4 linked regions of the Homo sapiens genome follow. The protein of the gene in region 1 purifies or fractionates together with the protein of each later gene. This does not show direct contact. Each region holds a gene or a part of one and is shown on either strand. Other genes may lie near its edges.

Region 1 (5,368 bases):
ACTCTGGGATTAATGAAAGACAAAAGCAATGGAGAACTCTGAAAGGTGGAAAGAGAAAGATGAAATTGTCTGGGACCCTAGCATCAGGGATCAACCAAGTGTCCGAGTGAGCATGTTAAGTCCTCCACACGACAGAAGAAGGTGACCTAGGCCTGCTGTTTCCCTACACCCAACCTGGCAATAGGAGGAGGGTATCGAAGGAGAGTCCCCTCCACAATACCAGGCAAGGCTGGTGCCACTGGCAAGGATGATCTACCAGGAGACCTGCTACCAATATGGAGCTAGAGAAAGTGCTTCCTTCTCATACCAAGAGACACCAGGATGGCTGTGGATGAGGAGGATCAGCAAAGGGACCCCATGACTAACAGTGCACCGTAAACCACCTAGGGTCCTCTTTGTCCCTGAGGGCATGAGACCCACTTCCCCATCCAGAGACAAGGACTCAATGGATTCTTACTGTTCTTTGTACATAGTACAGCAGTGAACAGTAACATACTACTGATAACTGCAATAATATGGAGGAATTGCACAAATATCAGATAGGATTGAAAAAGACATGAAATTCACACTGCTTGATTCCCTTTATATAAATAAATTCAAGAACAGGCAATCATTATTTATAATATTAAAAGTCAAGACTGCGTTTTGGAGAGGAGTCAGGATAAGTGATGAGGGCATACACAGGGGTGGAACTGCTAGAGCTGGAAACTTTTATTTCATGATCTGACTTGTATCACATGCATTCATTCACTTTGTGATCAATCTGCATGACCAGATGATATCATGCCCGATAAAATTAGATAGCAAAATTTATTGTGGATTCAAAGCACTTATAGAAGCATGGTTTTCCTTGAAAAACAAAAACTGAAAATAAATGTACATTAGCAGTATATAACTTTAAAAACATTATTAAGTCAATCAATTGAATATTACATACACTTGAAAATATATGAGATAAATATATGTACACACATATGGATGTTTTCTACAAATGTATTATTCACTGAAGGAAGCTTTTCATAAAATGTTTGAAACATTTACATCTTACCATTTCTTCTTCATTATCTATAGAAAGCAGACTGGAGTTCTTCGAAGTACAGGCCAGCAAACTCTCTTCCCAAGTTCTTCTTTCCTTACCAATGTAATAACAACTGTTGGAATATGTAATCCACTCCTCAGGACAATGGCCACAATGACGTGCTAATAAAGATATGAATTACTATCTAGACCAATATGAATTTTTAAAAATGAAAATTAGTTCACATATTTCAACAGTATAAACATATATGTGCTTAACATATTTACGCATCCTTACAGGCTTATAAATGTATATTTTTAATAACTGAGTCAGTCATACACACATGCACAGACAAGGGTTAGCCTCTCCTCCCTAATTGTGTTCCCATATAAAGCAAATGAACAAACAAAAATACACTCTACACATGTGTTGAACATCGCTGATACACAACTGCTTTTTTAGAATAGTAAAATTATTTATTTGGTATCATCTCACAGCAGTAGGAAACCTCTGTTAATTGGGAGAAAGAGGGTAGAATGATTTTAAGTGAGTATTTCTACTCACTGGAGAAAAGGAAATGCTGCCTCATAATCTTTCTTTATAAATATTTATGGCTGAATTTATGGCTTATTTTCTGCAAAAATGCCACTATTCTTTTACATGCCTTAAAACAGACACAAAATATAAATTGTACTAATATCAGAACATTGAAAATAAAAATGTACCTTTCTGCGTTCTTGTATTCGGGGAAAAATTGTTCTGCTCCAGGACTGTAATAGAAAAATTAAAATGATTTTTATAAAAACTGATATCTAGATAAACCATAACGAGTTTAGTTTCTTACTTTGAAACTTTGTGTGTTATTTAAAATGGGGAGAATCTTTAATAAAATTAACTTTTTCTATAAAAATATATAAAGTAATAGACCTTTGAAATAAACATTTTTAAAGACTTTAGCACAAACTTCACCATCTCTTGTAGTATTTGATGTAACCACTTTCAAAAATTAATTTGTTTTTCTAAATACTTTTCTTCTATAGCATGCCTTTGAATTATGAAATCAGAAAATATCTTTGTGTGTGTATGTATATACATATATATAGATTACACACAAAAAATAAACACATGTTCTCTACAATGATTTTGTTATTTATGTTGTGAAAAATTCAGAATAACCATATTACTTTTGGTTCCAAATTGTACTAATATCAGAACTTTGAAAATAAAAATGTACTTTTCTGGGTTCTTGTATTTGGGGAAGAATTGTTCTGCTCCAGGACTGTAACAGAAAAATTAAAATGATTTTTATAAAAAGTAATATTTAGATAAACCATAATGAGTTTAGTTTCTTACTTTGAAACTTTGTGTGTTATTTAAAATGGGGACAATCTTTAATAAAATTAACTTTTTCTATAAAAATAAATGAAGTAATAGATCTTTGAAAGAAACAGTAAAATAAGAGTTCTATTCTTCAACAGTATGAAATATTTTGAGGCACTTCCAAGCATTAAAGTAAAACGTTCCCTTCTAATCTTTCAAGAATATGCTTACAAGGAATAAGAACTATTGTTTTTAACACAGTGGCCATCAGGACAATGCAAATGATTCCTAGGACCTCGGCAGTGAGCTTCTCTGGAGGTGGCAGTAAACCTGCAGGGAGAGAAATAGAGGCACTGAGAGAGGGGAGATAGAGAGTTGATTAGGATTACATACTAGAGAATTACATACTAGAGAACCCACATGCACAGGGAAACATAATGATAAACTCTGGCCTCTAAATCTACATCTACTCTAGTAATCTTTCTCTCAGAATATACCATTTCATTTTCAGTAAATATAATGTTCCATGAGTGGACCGCAGATTACAGTTGAACAATGCCCGAATAAAATTAGTCTTCTGATTTCATATTAGAATTTTAGATCCCAATTATGAACTCCGATTCTCACAAGTGCAAAATATTCCCTAATCTTTCCTCACCCTTCTGCATTCAACTGCACATCCTAGAACAATAATATTGAAGATATATTTAATGTTTTACCTTGGCAGTCATATATTTTATCAATCCCTTGATGATTCAGGGAAGGATTTTGAAGATTTAATTCTACTTGGAATATTTCCTGTTCGGTTCCTGAAATGGAGCTTTTATTGCCTTTAGGTTTCCTTTGCTGCCGCTTTGGGTCCTGGGCCAGACTCACTTCTGAGAAGGTTCCTCTTTGTTTATTCATCTCTGCAGCTGTGTGATGTGAGGGACTGTGCTCTATGATAACTGCACTTAAGAAGCTATAAATGGTGTATATTTTGACAGGATCCCTGGTATAGGCAATGTGCATGTGTTGGGGCTGAGTAATAATGTTTACTTTGCTGTTAACCAATGTAAAATTCTGCTACTAATTTCCTAAAGCTTTAAACAAAAATCACACGATATAATTGGCAATTTTTTAGATGTATTCTGTATTTGACATAATATTACTAGTGGGAACAATAAAAACATTAAACTTATGAGAACTAGGAAGTTCATGAAAAATTGGTATTAAATTAAGGTTAGATTCTTCAAAAATGTTTAACACCAATAGACTGCATATGTCAACAATCAAAATACTGTATTTAGAAATACACAAATTTTATCATAGTTTTAAGAGTCATTGATGGTTAAGGATTGTGTGCCATAAGATAAAATAGTTCTGTCAGCATATAGAGTATCTTCTTATACTAAAATACATTGTTAGTGACTTACATTCATTTATTAAAAGGACCTGAGGTATTGTCAAATGATTTTTTTTCTAAATTAGGAAATCAGAAAAATCATTAAAATTTTAAAAATATATCTTGTAAAACATTACATTACTGTATGCATAAATATTATTGAAAACGTATTTTTAAATTGCTGCTTTTACACAAGAAATTGGTAATTGATTTAATGACTAAAATAGGAAAACTTAAAATGATAAATAAACGTGTGGGCCGTCTATGGAAGAATAGTGTCCAATCAAACTTTCAGAAAGCTCCTATGATTGTATAAGTCAGTGAGGGTTGCTTTGGTTGTATAAGTAATTGTAATAGTTCAGATAATGTAATTTAATAATCTAGTCAATGAGCTCTGTAGTCAGTGAGACTACAATTAATTCTAGCTTTGCAAGTTGTAATATGTGACCTGTACTAAATTACTTAGTGTCTACTAACCTAGTTTACTAATCTACATTGGGAAAAATAATTTATAAAGTATAATGTATGTAAAAAACTAAACACACAACCTGGCACATGTTACCACTGAATACATAATAGATATTTCAACTATTTTTAACACAATTGCCATTTTATTATTTCTGATTTGCATTAGAGTGTGTTAAAATAACTCATTAATTAGGCGTCTCATGTCAGTGTGGTACATCTTTTTTGCAATGTTTGGTTCAATTGTTTTAAGTCTTCCAATTGTTTATAATTAAGGTCAGATTTGCATTTTATGGAAATGATTTCATCCTTACTTTTATTAAAAATTAAAACTGCTTTCATGAAATCTAGGTGTGTGATTGAGAATTAATGTTTGACATTCACAATTTGATGTATCCATATTAAAAATTTATTTTTAAAGTTTGGTCTAAATATAATATACAAAATGTAATGGTTACAAAATCCAAAATTAATTGTTCATTGTCATGATGGTTATGGGTTTCACTCTAAATTACATGGATTGGCAAACCTATTATTATGTATGCATCTACTTGAGTGATTCTCCAGCGGCAATGATGTGAATACTCTAAGAAATCCTTAAACATAGTTTATATTTTGGCTCGTTTTTCACCTTGAATTATTCACGTGAATAAAGTTCTACCTTGATTTTCGTCTATATCAACTTTACCTCAGGTGCATCACAGCCAGTACTTACAATCTTCTACTAAATGAGATGAGCTAGTAGAGAAACAGGGAGAGGAGCAACACTTACCTACTGTCATCAGAAAGCCACACGCCCTTCAGTGGAGAGGTCAGGTTACCTCTGAAAGACACAAACGTTATCTGTGATCTTCACAGGCTGCCCTTTGAAGGGTCAGAGTGAGGCAAGAGTGGAAAAAGTAGATTCCTCACCAATGTGTCACTGCAGATTTGAACAGGAAATTCTCACCCTAGGGCTATTTTGAATCAGTTTGTCTCATCACACACTTTAGAATATAGGAGACTTTGGGTGGCTAGTGTGTCATTTAGTTTGTCCATTTTAAAGTGCCTCTTAGAAATTATTTTTATGGTCGACAAGATGAGGGGAGAGCAGAGATTTGATCCATGCTGGTGATTGTTTCCATCTCAGTCACAAACACCAAAGTTTTGTAACTTTTCAAAAGGATCTTAGGTGGTTGCTT
Region 2 (4,919 bases), on another chromosome or scaffold:
TGTCAGGGAGCTCCGTGTCCCGGAATAGCACTTTGACACCTTGTTTCTTACTTTCCTGGAAAATTAAAGCATTAGGAAAGAATTGGCTGGCTTTCCGCCCCACATGCAAGAGCCACCCCCAACCGCATTATCCGCGGTTTTCCTTACGCGAGGTCAACCATAGTCTGAAAATATGACAGTTATTTTGAGGCAGCCCACATTCATATAATTTCTATGACAGTAACAATTATATTGTTATAAATGTTCTATTTTATTATTATAACAATCCTGAAGATTGTGTAAAAACGCGTGCCATTTAAAAAGCAACAATACACAGACACCCAGGTACCCCTTCCCGGGGTGAGGCCCAGGCCCCCGTGTGGCCCCAGTCTCCCCGTCATCCTGGGAGGCTTTGAAGCGGGAGCTGCAGTGAAAGAAACAGAAGGGAGCCCGGCCTTCCCCACCCTCACACAGGCCAGGACTGGCTGGTGCTGCACCACCGCATCGCGGTCGGGACTCCGGGCTCTGCCCTCTGACAGGCCGTCAACCTCTGCACCATCTCCTCACCCAGGAGCGGGTGACAGCAGACCCTGTGAGGCCATGTGGGTCTAGGGACGTATCATGCGTTACTGAGTTAATGGGAGGAGGCAGGAGAGGGGAGGTGAGCTGGTAGGTGCAGGGCTGACCCCGAGAGGGTACCAGGGAACAAGAGGACGGTTTCTATTTGTCACCGCCTGGCCTCTGGGCATCCACATCTGATGGTGGGAGACCCGTTTGTGAATGAGAAGTGAGAGTTCAAGTTAACTGTCTTTTTTTTTTTTTTTTAATGAGTTCTCACCATGTGGCCCAGACTGGTCTCAAATTCCTGGCCTCAAGCGATCCTTCCGCATTGGCATCCTAAAGTGCTGGGATTGCTGGTGTGAGCCACCACACCCCACTGAGGTTGACCATCTTTTATTTGTTACACTTTAAGAACCTTTGTTTGAAAATAAAAATCAACAATTTCATGTAATCTTTGGTTTTTGGGAAAATCAGCTATTTTTTAATACCGTTCTTTGAAAGCCACTTGGTGTAGATTGATCTTGTCGCTGTTTGTTTACGTAATGCTGGCATTTTCCATCTCATTTCAGCTCTGACCACAAAGCCGAGCTCTCTGTCCTGGCTGCCCTCTCCCTCCTCGTAGTTTTTGTGCTGGTGCAGAGGGGGTGCTCCCCTGTGTCCAAGGCTGCCCTGGCGCTGGGGCTGCTGGGCGTCTACTGCTACCGGGCGGCCATCGGGAGTGTCCGGTTCCCGTGGCGGCCGGACAGCAAGGACATTTCCAAGTAAGTGCGTGGCGGACACGGGGTGCATAGAGCCACTTTACTGTTTGAAGAACTGGCGGACACGGGGCGCGTGGAACCACTTCACTGTTTGATGAACTGAGAAGACCAAGCCAGTCTTCAGAGCATTGGAGTTTGGTGTTTGTGAATTGTGATTGTGTCAACAGCTACTGGAGTGTAACTAAGAAAACCTCAACCAGCTGCGTTGTTAGCACTTTTTATGTTTTATGTGTTACTTTTAGGAGACAAATCACTTGGAAGTAAGATTTTTTAAATTTAAAATAAAACCTTCAGGGTGTGTGATGGGACAGACAGATGAGCGTGAATCGGTTTCTAAGTTAGTGGCAGCACGTGATGGCCAGGGTTCTGTTTTCCTGGTCAGGGTGTAATTGGTGATGAGGATGATGAGTGGATGTTTCCCAGCAGCTGGGAAATGAAGCTTGCTGGAAAATCAGACCGTCCTTGTAATTTATAACGAGCCCCCGTAAGGGGCCAGGAGCTCCTGTTGATTGGCGGGAGGGCTCAGTCAGGAGGACCATTTTATTTTCTTTGTGTCAAAGCAACTGTGTTTCTGATTTTAATTGTGTTGTGGTGGTGAACACAGGAGTGGGATGAGCAGAGGCCGTTCTGGAGGGCAGCTTGTAACATGTGGGTGACCCTCTATTTAAATTTAAATAGCTGTTTCCATTTATCTCAAGAATATAAGCAGAGGCAGGAGCCTGGGATGGGACAGAGGCATGTCCACTGAAGTGTCCTTCACAAAGTGTCCTTGCAAAAAGGAACAACCAGGGTAATTATCCAGCAGCAATACAGTGATCCTCCCAGTGAGGTCGGTGCTCTGACAGTGACCGTCCCAGTGAGGTCGGTGCTCTGATAGTGACCCTCTCAGTGAGGTCGGTGCTCTGCAGAGGGGTCTTCTGGCTGTTAGGCAGCCTATTTTCACAGAACAGAGAAGCATGTTGTGGAACAGGTATGACCCCAGCTTACTAATTGTGTACCTGTTTTTTTTTTCATACTTATATGAAAGACTACATACTTAAAATACTGGTGATTATATTTAGGACCTGAAATCATAAGATTGTGGTCTTGCTTTTTACTTATTTTTGTATCTTAGCGATGTCTAGAGTTAATAAGTGTTGCTTTTCTAATCACAGCAAGTCAAGGTGACTGCTGAGGGCTGTGGCCAGCCTGAGGGGTGGCCGTGGGGCTCCGGGGGCACCCCTGGAAGTACTTCCTGGCTGAGTGGGGAGTAAGGGGTGGGAGTTAGGGTGACCTGAGGCCTGGCTGAGGCAGTGAGAGTGTAGCAGGCCGTCATACGGGGCCGGGGCCTGGGGCAGAGAGGATGCTGACGTGCAGGTACCAGCGGTGTTCTGTGGAGATGTCTCAAAGGCTGTTGACTTTGGAATCTGAGACTTAGGGCTCATCCAAATGGATGTTACATTTGCGGGTGTGTGTTTAAGGTGCAGCGTATGAATAAATTCATTTCCTCACAGATCTATACACTGAATTTCAGCATCACTCATCTCAAGACCTTGGCCCTCTTCCCTTTCCTGGCCTGCTTCCTGCAGCATGTAATTTGCTAGTGTCCAGAACTAGCCAGTGTGCCTTTTCTTTCCACACGCACTGCCTGGTTCACCTTCTTCCTGTAAAGTGCCTCCGTCCTTTGTCCCCATCTGTCCCGATCGTAAATAGGTCCTGGCTACAGAGGCATCCTGGCTCTAGATCATTGTAACAGCTGCCGCTCTCCTGTCAGTCCCCCGGGCCCTGCCATCCACTGAGAGTCTGAAATCCTTTGCACTCAGTTCCTGACTGTCCTCCACTCAGAAGCCCAGGGATGGCTGGAGTGGAGGTGGAAGCGGGGTGGGCCTGGTTGAGCAGGATCAGACTCTGCCCGGCCAGGGGAGGAGGAGGAGGACCCACCAAAGGCCCTGGATGATGCCCCTCCTGCTCATCACCCTGCCTGCCCTAGCATCCTCTCGACACAGAAACCAGTCCCTTTTCTTCTATGAAACTTCTCCAGTGATTGTGACCTTTGCTGATTTCTCCCTTCTTTGAATGCAGATGGGCCTATAATTCACTCTTAACTTAGCACACACCTTGGCCTGTGGGGGTTGCCAGGTACCTGACCCCAGCTCCTCAGCCAGGATGTGGGCCCCTCCTGGCAGCCACACTGCCAGGCACATGGTATACAGTGCTCAGGCTGTTTGAACTAAACTGATCAAAGTTTACTTTCTTAATGTAAAAGCTTTCTAAGAAAATCTAATATAGGAAAATTCAGTTTTCACAATATTATGATATTAAAAATTACGATTATTTTAAATGATCAGATTTGTAGGCTGTGTGAAGCATTTCATTTACAAAATTTATTTAAAATATTATGTTTTAGGAACATACGTGTTTTGTAAGATGAAATTTTTTGGTAATTGTATCCTTTACAGATAACTATCATAAGAGTACTTAATTTTACTGAGCTTACTGTGTGCCAAGCACTCCCTGCATTCCCTTGCTTAATTCCTAGGATGACTTTGTGAAGTGTAGAACCATTTTCTCTCCATTTCACAAATAGCAAAGCTGAGGGTCAGAAGTCTTGATTGACACGCCCGAGTAGGAGAGCTAGTGAGCAGAGCAGCAGGGCTCGGACTGAGCAGAGCTCTGCCTTTTCTCAGAGCCCGCGGGTTGGATGACTGCACCACTGCACGCGTGTGTGCCTGTGAATGTGCAGGTGCTTATTTACCTATAACTGCATGTATGTGTACCTGTAAATGTGCAAATCCTTCTTTAAATCTGCTCAGTTGTGCAATGAACATTTATGAACTTACAGCAGTTTCTTAGAGTTGACTCTTATACTAGTGCGTTGGGTTTTTTTTAATTAACTGCAAAGCAGGCGGGCCACGAGGGCACCGCTTGGGTCGTGCCACCAGATGAGCCAAATGAGCAAGATCTCCCCGAAGCCAGCCCCAGCGGAAGAGTCTGCACGAGGACACACCTGTGGGCCTGTGGCGGCGGCTCCTCAGGGCTGCTGTGCGGAGGAGACATGCCCACTGCCATGACAGGACCTGGGGGGTAGGGAGGGTGCCGCGGCTCCTTTAGTCAGCAGTGCTGGACATTTACTGGTTCCCTGGGTAGATAGGTGTGTTTTTCATGGGAAAATGTTTTTGAATTTTTCTCACTGGTGCTAATGAATCTAACTTGTTTTGCTCTTTTTTAGGGGTATTATTGAAGCTCGTTTTGTTTATGTCTTTGTCCTTGGCATTCTGTTCACGGGCACCAAAGACTTACTTAAATCTCAAGTCATTGCTGCAGACTTCAAACTCAAGACTGTAGGTTTATGGGAGATATATAGTGGATTAGTTCTTCTGGCAGCCTTGCTCTTTAGACCACATAATCTTCCGGTCTTAGCATTTAGCCTCTTGATTCAGACTCTAATGACTAAATTCATCTGGAAGCCCCTGAGACACGATGCAGCTGAGATTACTGTGATGCATTATTGGTTTGGTCAAGCATTCTTCTATTTTCAGGTAGGTTTTCATTATTATCATGGGTAGTAGACTTCATGTTTTACATATTTATTTTAAATTTTTCTTTGAGAAAATGTTCCCATAAGTTGGAAAGTGACTGTCA
Region 3 (4,919 bases), on another chromosome or scaffold:
GATTTAAGATGACCTTTGAAGAGCAGATAAGATTGAGATAACCAAAAGGAATAGAAGTGCATTCCTGATAGAGGAATTTCAGGAAAGGAAAAAAATACTTATTATTATTTCATTATAACAATTTTAAATAATGCAGAGTGTTTAAAATGAAAAAGCCTTCATGAAGCATATACTACTTTGAAGATCTTTTTTTGGTTAAAAAAAAAAAGACTTCTAACACTGTAAAACTCATGATTAGTGTTGTCAATACTTACTAGCACTGTATTTGGCACTTAGCCATAAAAGCTCACATGAACTCTCAATCACATATGTTTGATAAGTTTGATAAGAGCAAGTTTCCCTAGTAATATCCATTAAATTCTGTAATCAGACTGTGCACATCACATTTTATCAAAGTAGTTAGCCTTAAGGAACTGTGATACTCTGAAATGCTCATATGACATCATAAGCTTCCCACAAAGTCGAAGGAAATTTGCTATTCAGAGTGACTTAGCACTATTCAGTGTGATTTTAAACCAAGACAAGCAGGAATGTAAACACATTGTTACAACAATAAAATCAAAAAAGACTTTTGGAACTGTAGTTCCTAATCTGTTTAATATAAGGAAATGAGTCATTTGACTCTGTCATGCAAACTCTGTTTTTTATGAAGTATAAGACTTGGTGACCAACTAAGTTGTGAGGCACAGAAGTGTCTTGGTCACAATGACTAAGTAAAGTTAAATGCCTTAATGATATAATCTACAATAAGAGAAAACTTCAATATTTAATTTGGTCTAGTTGGTCAAAAGGTATCCAGGTGAATTTTCATGTTCATATTCTTTCAAGTAAGCATCTTTCTCCTGGAAGTGTCAAAGAGAATAGCTGAGGGTCAAAGAAAGGTAGATATTTCTAAAAGTTTGGCATTGCTGGTGAACTGCTTGTCAGTGATAAAATTGCATTAAAAATATCTTAATTCAGAAAGGTACTTTATCACAGGCTTTATATCCTGAGGTAGACATGTTTATCATGTAGTCACATGACATGCATGTGTCTAACCAGTTAAAAATAATCAAGGTGATTCATAAGAATGAATTGGTTTATTTTTTCTTAATTCTTTCTACTATGCTCTTACCGTATTATGAGGAGTTCCACCCAGACTCGTACAAAAGCTGGTAATGGACCAAAGACTTCCAAAATATATGTGTAATGACCTCCAGATTTCTTTATAGTTGTTCCCAATTCAGCATAAGACAAAGCTCCTGTGAAATATTTGTCACAAAATGGTACCAATTTAATACATTTTCAAGACACCCAGCATTAGAATAGATACAATAATGTTTATATGTTGCCTGAGATGTAACTGCCTCCTTTGGTCTGAATGGCATCCTTACTCAAGACAAATAACCATCATCTAATTGCTAAGACCCGCCAAGTTCCTTTTCTAACATCCTCACAGTTGAGATTTAGTGTATTCTATTTGAACACTATAATTTTACTTGAAATGACAAAGATACATGTCTGCAACAATATCATGTGTTCCAGAATTTTGAGCTGAAAACCTGGAAATAGGGGAAAAAGAGGAGAGAGATGTCAATAATATTGACCTATTTTTAGAAGAACACAACCTCACACCAAGACAAGGCATTAGTCCAAATGTTTGAGTTAGCTTTTAAGTTTTTTGAGTTATTTTTTGAGAACCCTTTTAATAAATTATGTTTCTGTGGAAAATCAAAATGAACAAGCTGTATCCACTCTTTAGAAAACCATGGACTCTCTGACTTGCAAGATTTCTTTTTTTTTTTTTTTTTTTTGAGACGGAGTCTCACTCTGTCGCCCAAGCTGGAGTGCAGTGGCGCGATCTCGGCTCACTGCAAGCTCTGCCTCCTGGGTTCACACCATTCTCCTGCCTCAGCCTCCCGAGAAGCTGGGACTACAGGCGCCCGCCACCACGCCTGGCTAATTTTTTTTGTATTTTTAGTAGAGACGGGGTTTCATGGTGTTAGCCAGGATGGTCTCAATCTCCTGACCTCATGATCTGCCCGCCTTGGTCTCCCAAAGTTCTGGGATTACAGGTGTGAGCCACTGTGCACGGCCAAGATTTCATTTAATTTGTAGGATATATTTTGTCAACAAAATGAATTCTGACTCTGTTTCTATAAAAGGCTATCTTGGATGTTTTTTGAAGTGTACTCTCTGGGTGTTTTTTTTTGTTTGTTTTTTGTTTTTTTGAGATGGAATTTTTGGTCACCCAGGCTGGAGTGCAATGGCGCTGTCAGCTCATTGCAACCTCTGCCTCCTAGGTTCAAGCAATTCTCCTGCCTCAGGGTCCCGAATAGCTGGGATTACAGGTGGCTGCCACCACATCTGGCTAATTTTCATATTTTTAGTAGAGACAGGGTTTCACCATGTTGGCCAAGCTGGTCTTGAACTCCAGACCTCAGAAGATCCATCCACCTCGGCCTCCCAAAGTGCTGGGATTACAAGTGTGAGCCACTGCGCCTAGCCAGAATATATATATATATATATATATATATATATATATATATTTTTTTTTTTTTTTTTTTTTTTTTTTTTTTGAGATGGAGTCTCACTCTGTCCCCCCAGGCTGCAGTGCAGTGGCACGATCTCTGCTCACTGCAACCTCTGTCTCCAGGGTTCAAGTGATTCTCCTGCCTCAGCCTCTCAAGTAGTTGGGATTAGAGGTGCCTGCCAGCACGCCTGGCTAATTTTTTGTATTTTTAGTAGAGACAGGGTTTCTCAATTTTGGTCGGGCTGGTCTCAAACTCCCGACCTCAGGTGATCTGCTTGCCTTGGCCTCCCAAAGTGTTGGGATTACAGGCGTGAGCCACTGCGCCCGGCCCAGAATATACTTTTTAAAATGAGGTGCTATAATTTATATTTGTGTACTTTAGATCAAATTAACTATAAGCTAAATTTTTAACATTTAACGATACAATTCACATAAAATTGGACAAATATGCAACTCCCCAAAACCTCAGTTTCACTCTCTGTGAAATGGAGATCTCAGCTTCTACCTCATAAAGGAGTTGTGTGTATAAATGTGGCAGCGGGTACCTAGTACAGTACATGGCCTGACACATGGCAAGCACCACATGAAATATAGCTATACTTATTAATTTGAGTAATTAACAAGAAAATTTAAAAAAATCCTGTCATTATGTGAAAAGTTCTATCTGTACTGCCAAGTGCTCAAATGTAAGAACACAATTTTTTTCCAATCTACTTCTGAGAATAAAAGTGTAGAAAAGTACTACTGATTAGTAATAATTTAGACAGAACTGCTCAATATAAATATAATTTGGATATTCAGTGAAATCTTAGTGTTACATATTTTATATCTGATTTCTAAACTTATCATGACATCAAAGTCACCTAGGAATAATTTTTTTTTTTTTTTAATTTTTGAGATAGGGTATCACTCTGGCACCTAGGCTGGAGTGCAGTGGCACAATCTTGCCTCACTGCAGCCTCTGCCTCCTGAGCTCAAGTGATCCTTCCACGTCAGCCTCCCAAGTAGCTGGGACCACAGGTACACACCACCATGCCCAGCTAAATTTTTGTGTATTTTTTGTAGAGGCAGGGTTTTGCCATGTTGCCCAGGCTGGTCTGGAACTCCTGGGCTCAAGGGGTCTGTCTGCCTCAGCCTCCCAATGTGCTGAGATTATAGGCATGAGCCACCATGCTCAGTCTGGGAATAATTTTTAATTCGAAAACACTCAAACCAAAAACAGACTCTAATCAAGAGAGTATAGATTGTCCACAAGAGAAATTCAAGAATCTCTATCATTTTAAAATTTGTACAAATAATTCTAAAGTAACGAGTCTGCAGACTAATATTTGGGGAACACTGATGTATTTCATCTACCTATAACTAATTTTAACTAGTTGCAACTCACTCTCCATGGGGAAACATTCGCCATGTTGGTAGGCTGTCCAGAAAAGGATCCAATATAAAATGTTATTGGGAAGAGTCTTAAGTACCTCAGAATTTATTGTCAGAGAATCAATACCTAGACCTCTATATGCTTTACTGAAACTCCAGGATGGTTGCCCTAGGTTTAAACTGAGTTCTGGGGGAATGATTTTCATTTAAAGGTCTCAAGCTTCATAACCATTTTGCCCAGATGAAAAAAGTTCAAAACAAGATGTAAAAATCCATGTATTGACCCTTCACTTAAAAAAAAAGTATATATATGTATTAAACCAAATGTACAGATTCTTTACAGTTGGTCCCAAAGTTCTAGAGTCTTTTTAAAAAGAAGGATTATTTTTTCTTCAGATTTTGCTTTGCTTGCTGTTACAGAGGCACTCCTGTCCAAAAGCTTCTGGTAACTTAAGTGACAAATGCAATGCAAATAAAGATAAGTAGATTAATACAAGAGCACACTCCCTGCAATTACTAATCAAAGAATACCAACTCAAGTGTAATGTTAGCTAGTCTCCTTAGCTGTTTCTCTCTTTTTATTTTTTTTTGAGCTTTTGCTTCAGATGATATGTAATACTTATGCATAAGCATATTTTCATAGTGCAAGTCAACACACTTTAACTAGTTCAATACTCATACTGATCTATTTTATTACATCTGAATAATCTTTTATTATGTGCAAAAATTGAATCACATAGTGGAAGCTGCATGCACATAAGTACGCAAAGTCCAGTAAACTGGTTGTGGTTTTTCTGATTAGATATTGATTTATTCTGAATATATAAAGTGCTGTAGGAAGATTTAAAGGCTGAGGGTGCACAAAATCATTTAAGATGATCAACAATTAGGTTTCTCTTTTTCTATAAGTGCATATACCAGAGCTATTTTAATATTAATAGTGGCTAAGGGTACTATTAGAGTTTTTCATAATGATATTACTCCAAATTATTTTATAAAGATGGGAAGTAATACTGGGAAATAATGATACACA
Region 4 (4,919 bases), on another chromosome or scaffold:
TTATGTTCCTATGACTTCTTGAGTTATACATTTTTATTAACAAATGATAAAATTATATTCACTAAATGAACTCATTTGTACCTGTTTTACCAGTTTCAGAATGTTATTTTATATTTCTTAGGTTTTTCTTAGACTTGTAGAAATCATGCTGCTTTGTTCCCTGCAGGAGTTAAAATAAAAATATTAGTAATTATGCATATTTAATTTTCAGAATGCCAACTGATTACTCACAGCAGTTATAAAAGGGAAATGATTTTAGATATTCATAAAACATTTCCTTAGTAAGGGGCTTTCAAGTCTGAAGTTGTGTTATTATGGATATTTCTTTTTAAAATAATCAGGATAAAAAATGCATTTATTAAGATCCCTCTTCTTTTCTCTTTTTCAGATGTAAGACAAAAGTCTACCCTGATGAACTTCCAAACACAAGTGTAGTCATTGTGTTTCATAATGAAGCTTGGAGCACTCTCCTTAGAACTGTTTACAGTGTGATAAATCGTTCCCCACACTATCTACTCTCAGAGGTCATCTTGGTAGATGATGCCAGTGAAAGAGGTACAAACTGGTTTTTTGTTTTTGTTTTTGTTTTTTTGTTTTGTTTTGTTTTGTTTTTTTGTATTAGAAAGCTTTATTATGGCCAAAAAGATAACTAGGCAATGATCTATATTTGCATTATAATTTTACTAGCCCTGCCACAGCCTATCAGATTCTCATCAAGAACCTCATTAATGCCAACTCTAGAAGCAAATAACTAATTCTTTCACTTTCTCTCATGATTCTATATGGTTCTTACCTAAAATTTCAGCCAAAATGACTTTCAAAAATATATCTTTTTTCCAACTCAATTGATTATATTATTGAGCATTCTCATATGATTTTATGGATACTTGACATTAATTAACTAATGAAATCTCTATTATTTTATATCTAAGGCAGTAAATACTGATAGGAATTGGCCACCATTTCTGTGTGTTGAATTTCCATCTTGGTAGTATCTCTGCTATTTCTTAAAACAGTTTCAAAAATTTTTCTTATAAATTCTTATACATGTTACAGATTTTCTCAAGTTGACATTAGAGAATTACGTGAAAAATTTAGAAGTGCCAGTAAAAATTATTAGGATGGAAGAACGCTCTGGGTTAATACGTGCCCGTCTTCGAGGAGCAGCTGCTTCAAAAGGGCAGGTCATAACTTTTCTTGATGCACACTGTGAATGCACGTTAGGATGGCTGGAGCCTTTGCTGGCAAGAATAAAGGAAGACAGGTAAGAATTTATGTGTTCTGTCTGCCTGGGTTATGACTGAACCTCTTAGGACAGTTCCAGATGTCCATCAGAATTTCTCTTCCAAGTTGCTATTTTTAGAAGGTTTATTTTATAGCTTTTCTTAAAAGCACGTTTTCCCACTTGCTTGATAAATAAGACTGCTGTATTCATGCTGGACATAGATAGTTGATTAAGAAATAGTGAAATAATTCAAATAATAAAAACGTGTTAAATTACTTTTTAGGTGAAGGAAATAAATATAATCTAAAATAGTATAATTGTGTTATAAAGCACATTTTCAAAGCACCTTTTTGTGTTCTGACAACCACCCTGTGAGGTAGGTACTGTAGATATTCTTATCTATAACTTATAATGAGGAGGAACAAAGAAGCCACATCTAACTTGCTCCTGTCATTGGAAGTGCTGGGAACAACAATTCAGCTCTTTCCAGTTCTCTGCCAGTGTTCTGTAAACTACACGAGCACCCTTAGTCAGTCTAGTTCAAATCCACCTGGAATGTCTTAAAAATGCACACACACACATGCACACACACAGCACTGAAAAAATTATAATTAAAAAAAGAAACATAAGAGCACAGCTATAAGAATATGTTTAATTATTTCAACAATGTCACCTTATACATACACATTTTGAAATCTGGAAAATTGAATAAATAACACTTATAGAAATTAAGAATCCTTATACATACCTGCAATTCCTTCTGTTGTTGATGAAGTACAAGCATTTTTTAGCAAATATTTATAAACACTGGTGATAAGAGAGTATAATTTCTAAATACCTAGATAACTAACATTGAATGCCAACTGATACAATAACAAAACATTACATAACACCATACTTGCATAGTCATTTCGTCTATAGTAGAAAATTCCTTCTAGAATTGACATTTTTAATTAGACACTCAAGATAGGAGCTACTTAGTCTGAGCTAGTCCAGCCACATCACTTAAACAGCAGGATTTGGTACTTGCCAGGAAGATGGATGGAAGCTGTCAGTAAAATGAAGCACAGCAGTTGAAGAAAGCAGTAGGAACCTTTTAGTCCATAGAGTGTTGTACATGGCTAATAACATTTTTCCACTCTGTGTATTGTACAGTACCCACAGGACAATCAGACTGGCAAAGTAAAATGAACTTAAAAATGAATTTCCTGGCAAATTTTGGTACATTATGTTGTTTTTTTTTTCCACATGTGTTTCATATTCAACTGAATGAGCTTTTAATGTTTCAATACGGTCATACATAGGCTATTTATTTTTTTGATCTAACAACATAATTGCACTGTATTTGCATATGATGAACCCTATTGTCTTGACCTGATTATAAAGTTTAAAACTACCCTAAATAGACAGTCTGTTCAAGATTTTTAGACCTAATTTCTTCTCCTCACAAGTTAAATCATTAAATCTAATAAAGGAAGTGAGAAAAATGTTGATTTTTCTGGGGTCCAGAGTCACCAAGAAGGTTTTCCAAGGCTAGAGGAGTCTTGTTGATCGCAGATAAGTTGAGGCTCTGGTCAGTTGTGTGGAATATAAGACTTCAATTGAAAATGAGTATTGGTGAAACTGGTGTTACAAAACAAGTATGAATAATGGACATTTATGTGCTTTTCATATCTAGGGATGATTCAGAAGCTTATTTGTGTATTTACCTTCTACCAAATATGAAAAACCAACTCTGGTCTTCAGAATTAGCTACAACCAATACAATTTGAGTAGGCCTGAACATTTACTTGTGGAAATCACAGAAGGTTGGTCCCATAATAAAATAAATGAACAGGCATTAGATCAAGAATTAGAGAAGGCACAACATGGATTAAAAGTGTACCTAATGATTTTCCCAAATGAAATTTTCTACCATAGAAAGCTACCATTAAGAACACCAACCTTTCTCTTACTTTAAGAAAAATGGGATAGGCCAGGTGCGGTGGCTCACACCTATAATCCCAGCATTTGGGAGGCCAAGGCAGGTGGATCACCTGAGGTCAGGAGTTCGAGACCAACCTAGCCAACATGGTGAAACTCTGTCTCTGCTAAAAATACAAAAATTAGCCAGGTATGATGGCAGGCACGTTGGGAGGCTGAGGCAGGAGAATTGCTTGAACCTGGGAGGCAGAGTTTGCACTGATCTGAGATCTCCCCACTGCACTCCAGCCTGGGTGACAGGGCAAGGCTCTGTCAAAATAAATAAATAAATAAATAAATAAATAAATAAATAAATAAAACACCAGAGATTAAAGTTGCTTATCTTTCCCTATCTTAAGCTATCATCTAGATTATACATGTAAACTCTTAATTTGAGGACATTTTACTCAGAAATGGTCATGACCCTATCATCTTTCATCGGAAACATTTACTTATACTGACGGATTATGATTTTTGTTGTTGCTGTTTGTTGATTTCTGTTTGTTTTTCCTAGTAGGTGTTTTCTCCATGAAGATGTTCTCAGAACTCTCTAAACTAACGTACCCTACTTGAAATGCAAACTACCAGATCTAATTTGCCATCATCCCTTCTTACCTCCCTGAATGCTATTTCTTTTCAATGGATTATAGCTAAAATGATGCATAATCTCAAAGCAGCTCTACTAATCATGCTGTGGGTGGAGGTTTTATAAAAAATAGACCCTGCTCATCTTGCTAAGTTAGTACTTAGAATGCATTTGGAAATAAACTTGTTTAGATTTCAAAAGATAGCATAAAGTAAACTGTAAGGAATATGTAGTCAAAGGAAATAATTCCATGGACTAATAGGATAAAATGAAGCTAAAGGCATATTAAAGTAACAAAATAATTAAATTTCCTCATATCAGCTATAATCAGTTTGAAGAAGATAATGTAACATTTTAATTATCATGTGTCTATAAATTGGTTTTAATTTCTCTGCAGGAAAACGGTTGTCTGCCCTATCATTGATGTGATTAGTGATGATACTTTTGAATATATGGCTGGGTCAGACATGACTTATGGGGGTTTTAACTGGAAACTGAATTTCCGCTGGTATCCTGTTCCCCAAAGAGAAATGGACAGGAGGAAAGGAGACAGAACATTACCTGTCAGGTATGTAGATCATATCTCTTGAAGATTATGTATATCCCCCTAAAAATTAAGGAATATTATAGATTTCTGTTCTAATGTTTAATTATTTAATTGTATCCTTATTATTCAATATACATATACATTATGACCTTTACATAATCATATAAGGATCAATGACAATATTAAATCTAATTTAAATTAGTATAGGCAAACTTAAGTATTGGCAAAAATGCTAAATATCTTTTGAAAGTTTATGTATTCTTGTATTCAAAATATATTTACTGTGAATTTTCTATGTGACAGAAATGTGCTAGCCTTGACACTTCAAGTAAATGTGTGTCTTACCTTAAAGTATAGATTTATAATAGAAATGTTCTCAAAACTGAAATAGCCAAAAATGTTTTGGTAAGTATTCTAAATATACCACCTTTAAAAGGTTATCTTCCTTATAGATTCTATAGGTCCATTTGGAAAATATTAATGTATTCAAAATTATGAAGGGCTTATTATCCCAAATTACTTCAAATACTACTTAAGTTGAAATCCTGATTAGTAAAATATGCACTTACTTGTAATAAAAAATATCATATACATCTCGA

Evidence for each region. The genes of interacting proteins can lie anywhere in the genome.
Region 2: the proteins of KLRC2 (region 1) and PIGG purify together in Homo sapiens (affinity purification with mass spectrometry; one large-scale study listed by BioGRID and IntAct). This does not show direct contact.
Region 3: the proteins of KLRC2 (region 1) and SLC7A11 purify together in Homo sapiens (affinity purification with mass spectrometry; one large-scale study listed by BioGRID and IntAct). This does not show direct contact.
Region 4: the proteins of KLRC2 (region 1) and GALNT13 purify together in Homo sapiens (affinity purification with mass spectrometry; one large-scale study listed by BioGRID and IntAct). This does not show direct contact.

The regions. Positions count from the first base shown.
Region 1 is NC_000012.12:10,432,743-10,438,110, forward strand, and holds the start of KLRC2 (NKG2-C type II integral membrane protein), read right to left. Parts: upstream 3,269-5,368; 5' UTR 3,245-3,268; coding exon 3,058-3,244; intron 2,669-3,057; coding exon 2,570-2,668; intron 1,789-2,569; coding exon 1,744-1,788; intron 1,201-1,743; coding exon 1,049-1,200; intron 1-1,048. UniProt on the Homo sapiens protein: Immune activating receptor involved in self-nonself discrimination.
Region 2 is NC_000004.12:525,930-530,848, forward strand, and holds part of PIGG (GPI ethanolamine phosphate transferase 2, catalytic subunit), read left to right. Parts: intron 1-1,109; coding exon 1,110-1,301; coding exon of another isoform or gene 1,302-1,305; exon of another isoform or gene 1,306-1,612; intron 1,613-4,506; coding exon 4,507-4,816; exon of another isoform or gene 4,817-4,919.
Region 3 is NC_000004.12:138,235,211-138,240,129, forward strand, and holds part of SLC7A11 (cystine/glutamate transporter), read right to left. Parts: intron 1,242-4,919; coding exon 1,115-1,241; intron 1-1,114. UniProt on the Homo sapiens protein: Heterodimer with SLC3A2, that functions as an antiporter by mediating the exchange of extracellular anionic L-cystine and intracellular L-glutamate across the cellular plasma membrane.
Region 4 is NC_000002.12:154,241,642-154,246,560, forward strand, and holds part of GALNT13 (polypeptide N-acetylgalactosaminyltransferase 13), read left to right. Parts: intron 1-388; coding exon 389-555; intron 556-1,056; coding exon 1,057-1,264; intron 1,265-4,170; coding exon 4,171-4,341; intron 4,342-4,919. UniProt on the Homo sapiens protein: Catalyzes the initial reaction in O-linked oligosaccharide biosynthesis, the transfer of an N-acetyl-D-galactosamine (GalNAc) residue from UDP-GalNAc to a serine or threonine residue on the protein receptor.